2 separate regions of the Homo sapiens genome follow, and region 1 is linked to region 2. Evidence: fine-mapped expression QTL. A gene starts in region 2. The other region holds a variant in brackets. All regions are shown on one strand. Distances are from middle to middle. Region 1 overlaps SCCPDH (saccharopine dehydrogenase (putative)). Region 2 holds the start of SCCPDH (saccharopine dehydrogenase (putative)).

What was found. PIP is the estimated chance that this variant, and not a neighbour inherited with it, causes the effect.
Region 1: its variant is fine-mapped to the expression of SCCPDH in prefrontal cortex (GTEx, PIP 0.95).

Annotation. Positions count from the first base shown.
Region 1 is chr1:246,753,605-246,756,518 of GRCh38, forward strand. All of the region lies in intron 5 of SCCPDH (saccharopine dehydrogenase (putative)), which reads left to right. It also overlaps the pseudogene RPL35AP6. Among named protein-coding and RNA genes, the nearest start is that of SCCPDH, 31 kb to the left of the region's middle. RefSeq lists a silencer at 418-568. The variant G/T (reference allele first, on the strand shown) is at 1,691.
Region 2 is chr1:246,723,199-246,726,112 of GRCh38, forward strand. SCCPDH (saccharopine dehydrogenase (putative)) reads left to right here and starts at 1,211. Exons shown (of 12, transcript NM_016002.3): 1 at 1,211-1,414. The coding sequence starts at 1,225. RefSeq lists an enhancer at 645-804 and silencers at 1,015-1,144, 1,185-1,254, 1,355-1,564.

The DNA of each region.
Region 1 (2,914 bases), 30 kb after region 2:
TATTGTCCCACCTGAGGTTTTGGGCGGGAAATTTTTGATCCGCTGTAGGAACGTTTTGGCCAGAAGGGTGTTCACGTTCCAAGACTCCCATAGCAGTTCGACGGATCGTGGCTCTTTCTTCCCCCGAGAAGAGAGGAAAGGGAAGTTCTGAAAATCCTTTTTACATTGCTCTATCTCACGCTGAAGTCCTTTTAGGGAAGAGGACTTAACGCTCGTAGTGAGTGGGCTCCTGGGACAGTTCCCAGGAGGCAGGGTTATAAGGAGGGGGACAATGGGGATAGGAGAAGGGTCTGGGACAGCAGCTGCTTTTTCTTGTTTTTGGTCCTTTCATTATCCTTCTAGTATTTTAACATGAGACCTAGGGGGCACTCAAGGGGAATATCCTTGTTATCTTTGTCCTTCTTGGTCCCTGTCTTGCTTGGGGTATTTCCCATATTGGGTCCTGGTTAGGCCCCATCTCTCATCTTAGAGATGTGTCTCCTATCCTTTAGCCCCACCTGCTGGAGGCTCCTCGCATTCACACACACTTTCAACCCCCGCAGAGTATCCCGACCACCGAGGAAACGCTTGGCTGCTCCTGTGGTGTTTCTTACCTTGGTCTGTGCACAGAGTTACCTGGTCGCTGCGGTGTGTGATGATCCCTTTCCCCAGGTCGCCAGCCAGTTTCTTTCTGCATTGCTGAGAGTCCGGGTTTATTTGTCACACCCGGTGGGTCTTGATTCCTTACCCCTGAGGCCACTGCAACAAGGCAGCGGGGCATGCCTCCTCATGGGAGAGGACCAGACCCTTCACCAAAGGAGAATGGGAATCCCGGGCGGGCCCCCAAATTTGTTAGAAGTAAATTTTCAGTGCCGCAAAAGAAATAGCACTTGAACATAAATTTTTTCAACTAGGCTGTAGCAGGATAAGCTGCAGACAAAACCCCTCAGACACCAAGTTAAAGAAGGAAGGGCTTTATTCGGCTGGGAGCTTCGGCAAGACTCACGTCTCCAGCAGTCGAGCTCCGCGAGTGAGCAATTCCTGTCCCTTTTAAGGGCTTACAACTCTAAGGGGGTCCGTGTGAGAGGGTCGTGATCCACTGAGCAGACATGTGTCCGTTTCACCTAGGTTATCTAATTTGTTGGCATACACTTTTCATAGTATTCCTTTATACTCCTTTTTATTTCTATAAGGTTGGTAATAATGTTCCCTCTTTTATTCCTGATTTTAGTAGTTTGGGTTTTCTTTCTCTTTTTTTTGGTCTGTCTAGCCAAAATGTGTCAGTTTTGTTGACCTCTTCAAAGAACCAACTTTTAGTTTTGTTGATTTTTTCTATTCTGTTTCATTTATTTCCACAATAGTTTTTATTGTTCCTGGATATGAAATTAATATAAAAATCAGCTGTATTTCTGTATGCCAGCTACAGTTAGAAGGTGATTATTTTTGTAAAAAACACCATTTATGATAGCATTAAATAAATCAAGTACCTAAGAGTAAGTAATAGAAAGTGTACAAGATTTCTTTGAAGAAAACTGTAAACCTTTATTGAGGGACCATAAAGAAGACATAAATTGAAGGATCCAGCGTATTCATGGATTAAAATATGAATCCATTTTGTAGTTAATTTTCTTCAAATTTGTTTATAATCTCATGCAATTCCCATCAAAATCACAAACAGGTTTTTTTGTTTGTTTTGTTTCGATGTGCATCT[G/T]GACAAGCTGTTTCTAAAATGTATGTGGAAACTCAAAGGGCTGAGAACAGGCAAGATATTCTTGAAAGAGAATAAGGCAGAAAGACACTCTTGGAGATCAAGACCTGTTATTAAGTCAGCATAAACCCTTGACATATGGTAAAGGGGCTTTTCCTATCATTTTTCTTTTCTTTTTACAAATCCACTTTTACTGGTATTTATTTACTTTTCATTAGTTCAAATCCTTGAGGAGTACAGCATCACAGAGCCGCCGTGACTAGTGGCCTAAGCAGGACGGCTGCTTTGGAATTAGGCACACATTGTGCCACTGTTTCCGTGGGCACACGTTACCTTTCTCCACCTTACTCTGGTTTTGTTTGGTTTGCTGCCAGGAGTCAGTATTATTCTTTGTACACATAAGCGCATTTCCTGCCCAAATCAAATCTCATTTTATGTCAGCCATAAATACCTTCAGTTTTAAGAAGAGCTGTGTCCTCCCTTTGGTTCTGGAGATCCTGCTGACGGCAAAAACGGCCTTGGACCACAGCTTTCCAGGCATACTTGTCATTTAGAATTCCTCCTCCCAGCAGGCCTCCGGGCTTCAAGTTGGCAGGAACAGCAAGGGGGCTTTTCGGTAGATGCTGCTGGGACAATTGAGTATCTACTTGGAGAAAAAATGGAATTGGATTCATACTTTTGCACCCCGTACCAAAATCAAGTTTAGATGGATTGTGGATGCCCTCACGGTTGGGAATGGCTTTTACAAAAAGACAAAGAGGCATTAAATGTAATGAAAAAGTGATACGTTTGTGTACTTTTAAAATTGAGAATGTTTCCCAAAACACACGATTAAGAAAGTCAAAAGGCTAGCTGCAATGTAGGAGTTACTTACAACACGTGGTAAATCCTGACATCACAATTTTGAGCATAAGAAGCCAAACACTCAGTAATAAATCTTGCTTGATTGCATTTCTGTAGAGCTTAGAAACAGGCAAAACTAATTGTACTGTTTAGGGATGAATTCTTAGGTGATTAAACTCTAAAGAAAAGAATTTTTCTTGATTACTGTAAAGGCAGGACGGAAGGAGGGCCTTCTTAGTTGCTGGTTACCTGTAGTTCTTGACCTGGATGTTTACATGTACGTTGGCTTCATAACATACATGAATATACAATTTAATAAAATTGTATTAGGTACGTCTCTATATTTTTCTGTGAAACGCAAATAGTTTTTTAAATTGAATGTAA
Region 2 (2,914 bases):
CTCTCTCCACACACGTATCACAGACATTTTTTTTTATTCTGAATCATTTGGGAATAAGTTCACGACATCATGACCAAATAAGAAAGCTGCAGGATTGACATTTACAAAATATTCAAAATATGCAAAACGGTACTATAATATTTATAAATACATACATATATAACAAGCAGAAAGATAGGAATAGGAATAATAAACACTAAATTCAGGCAAGTGGCCGTCTTGGGGACGCAAAAGGAAATGTGTTCAGGAATGAATACCTGGAAGCCTCGCTATCTGGAATATTTTTCTTAAGCTGTGTTGAGGGTACATATTTGTTATTGGCTGTACCTTTTTTGCAAGACATATATTTCAAAATTTTTAAAAGCATTCATTTATTCCTATTTTAATGAGAGTTTTTAAAAATCAGGAATGGGCTGGGTGCAGTGGCTCATGCGTGTAATCCCGACCCTTTGGGAGGCCGAGGTGGGTGGATCACCTGAGGTCAGGAGTTCGAGACCAGCCTGGCCAACAAGGTGAAAACCCATCTCTACTAAAAACACAAAAATTAGCAGGGCGTGGGGGCGCTCCCCTGTAATCCCAGCTACTCGGGAGGCTGAGGCAGAATCGCTTGAACCCAGGAGGCGAAGGTTGCAGTAAATCGAGATCGCGCCACTGCGCTGCAGCCTGGGCGACAGAGTGAGACTCCATCTCAAAAACAGAAAAGAGAAAAGAAAGGGAAAAAAGGGAAGAAAGAAAGGAAGAAAGCAAGCAAGCTCAAGGGTTCTCGGGGTGGGCCATCCCCGAGGCCATCCGCAGATTTTCTCGCACTCTTTGCTCCACCCCCACGTGCAACAAGGACAACCGGCTGCCGCCTCCAGCTTCCAGCAGGGCTAGAAGATGCGCTGCCCGGGGCGGCCAGAGCCCTGCAGAACAAACCGCCGCACGGAATTAGGGGCCGCCGTCCGCGCCTGCCAGGCTTGGAAGCGGACTCGCCCCCAGGGCCACCGCCCTAGGAAACCTCCCGTCGGAAGCCTCCCAAGCAAGCCGCTCACCCGCGGCTCCCGCGCGAGGCGGCGTGGGCGTGGGCGCGGCCCTGGCGCGGCGGCGCGCGCGGGGTGAAGGGAGCCCGGCGCGCTGGCTGCGGCGACGGCGGCCGTTGCTGCGCCGGGTACTGGGGTCGCTGCCTGAGGCGCAGGCGCCGTGGACTCCACCCGCCCCGGGGCCTGGGCTCGCTGTGGACTCGTCATGGCGACCGAGCAGAGGCCTTTCCACCTGGTGGTGTTCGGCGCGTCTGGCTTCACCGGCCAGTTCGTGACCGAGGAGGTGGCCCGGGAGCAGGTGGACCCGGAGCGGAGCTCCCGCCTGCCCTGGGCCGTGGCGGGCCGCTCCCGGGAGAAGCTGCAGCGGGTGCTGGAGAAGGCGGCCCTGAAGCTGGGTACAGCGGCGGGGCGGGACGGGGCTGCGCGGGCGGCTGGGCCGGGGACCCCGCATCGCCCCAAACGAGCGTTTCTCCCGCAGGGATGCGCCCTACGTGTCCCCGAGCCCTGCGTGAGGACAAGAAGAGGAGAGGGAGAGATGTTTCAAATACTGCCATAGCTTTGTCCCACCTCCTTAACTATATGTGTGTGTGCGCGTGCGTGTATAATATACACACACATTTTTTTTTCTTTCCTTCTCCTCTTTCCCGCTTTTTGCATTTCTGCCTCAGTTTGGGGAGCTCCCCTGGCGAAATGGTCAAGAACTTGAGTTGTCCCTCTCTCTGCTTCATCCTGCCCCGCAGCGGGGGCACCTGTTGAATCTGCGGGTTTCTAGATGTTTGGTCGGAGAGGAGAGGAGGGCTTTGGTCTCTTGGAGATCGGAGTCTCCCTTTGCCTCGTGTTTTGAGGACGGGAGAGCAAGCTTACGAGTTGTACTGACAGTGTCTTTGTGGCTATTCTGTTTTAGTTTCTTGTTTTGTGTGTAAGAATACTCCAGCAGTCTTCCTCTTCAGAGAATAAAAAGTGTGTATTTCTGGTTTAGACGCTTACGTATTCTCTAAGCATTCAGGTAGCATGTATTTATTGATAATCTAAGCATTCAGGTAGCATATATTTATTGATAATCTAAGCATTCAGGTAGCATATATTTATTGATTCTCTAAGCATTGAAGGAGCATATATTTATTGAGTGACGTTGTCCATGCTAAGACCTGTCCCGAGTCTGGGGTGCAGGATGGGACAGAGAGGAGACAGACACACGGATCCTGCTGCCTTCATGGCTGGGGAGACATCTGACTTACGACTCCGTAGCCTTTAAATTTGGCTATTAACTCCCGTAGATTTCCCTTATACAGACACCCATTAGAGTTCTGGAAATACTACATTCTTTCTGTTTAATCTACTTTCATACAATGCCCTGCTCGGAGTGCTTTTGTTCGTGGTTATGTACAGAAGACACCACGTAGGCTGGACTCTCCTACAGCTTTTGGTGCTGACACTACCAACACGTAATTCTGACCAAAGAGCTTTTTGGTCGTTATTTTTCCAACAGAAGTAATTTTACTATGAAAATATATGCTTCCATTTCTTTTTTCGGCTCAGCAAGATCGTACCGGTACAGCCTAGTCACTTATCATATATAATGCCCAAATCAAGTTTCATTGTGGGGGGATATACCTTCACCTATTGAAACCTGCATCACTTAGTTGAGCCAGTTAATTCCAATTATTTTCTTATGAGCCTGTGTGTGTTTATATAGCGTGTGCTTTTCACCTCAGAGTTCTAATTTTTTGTTTTTTGTTTGTTTGTTTGCCATTCTCCTGCCTCAGCCTCCTGAGTAGCTGGGACTAGAGGCGCCCGCCACCACGCCCTGCTAATTTTTTTAGTAGAGACGGGGTTTCACCGTGTTAGTGAGGATGGTCTCGATCTGCTGACCTCGTGATCCACCCTTCTCGGCT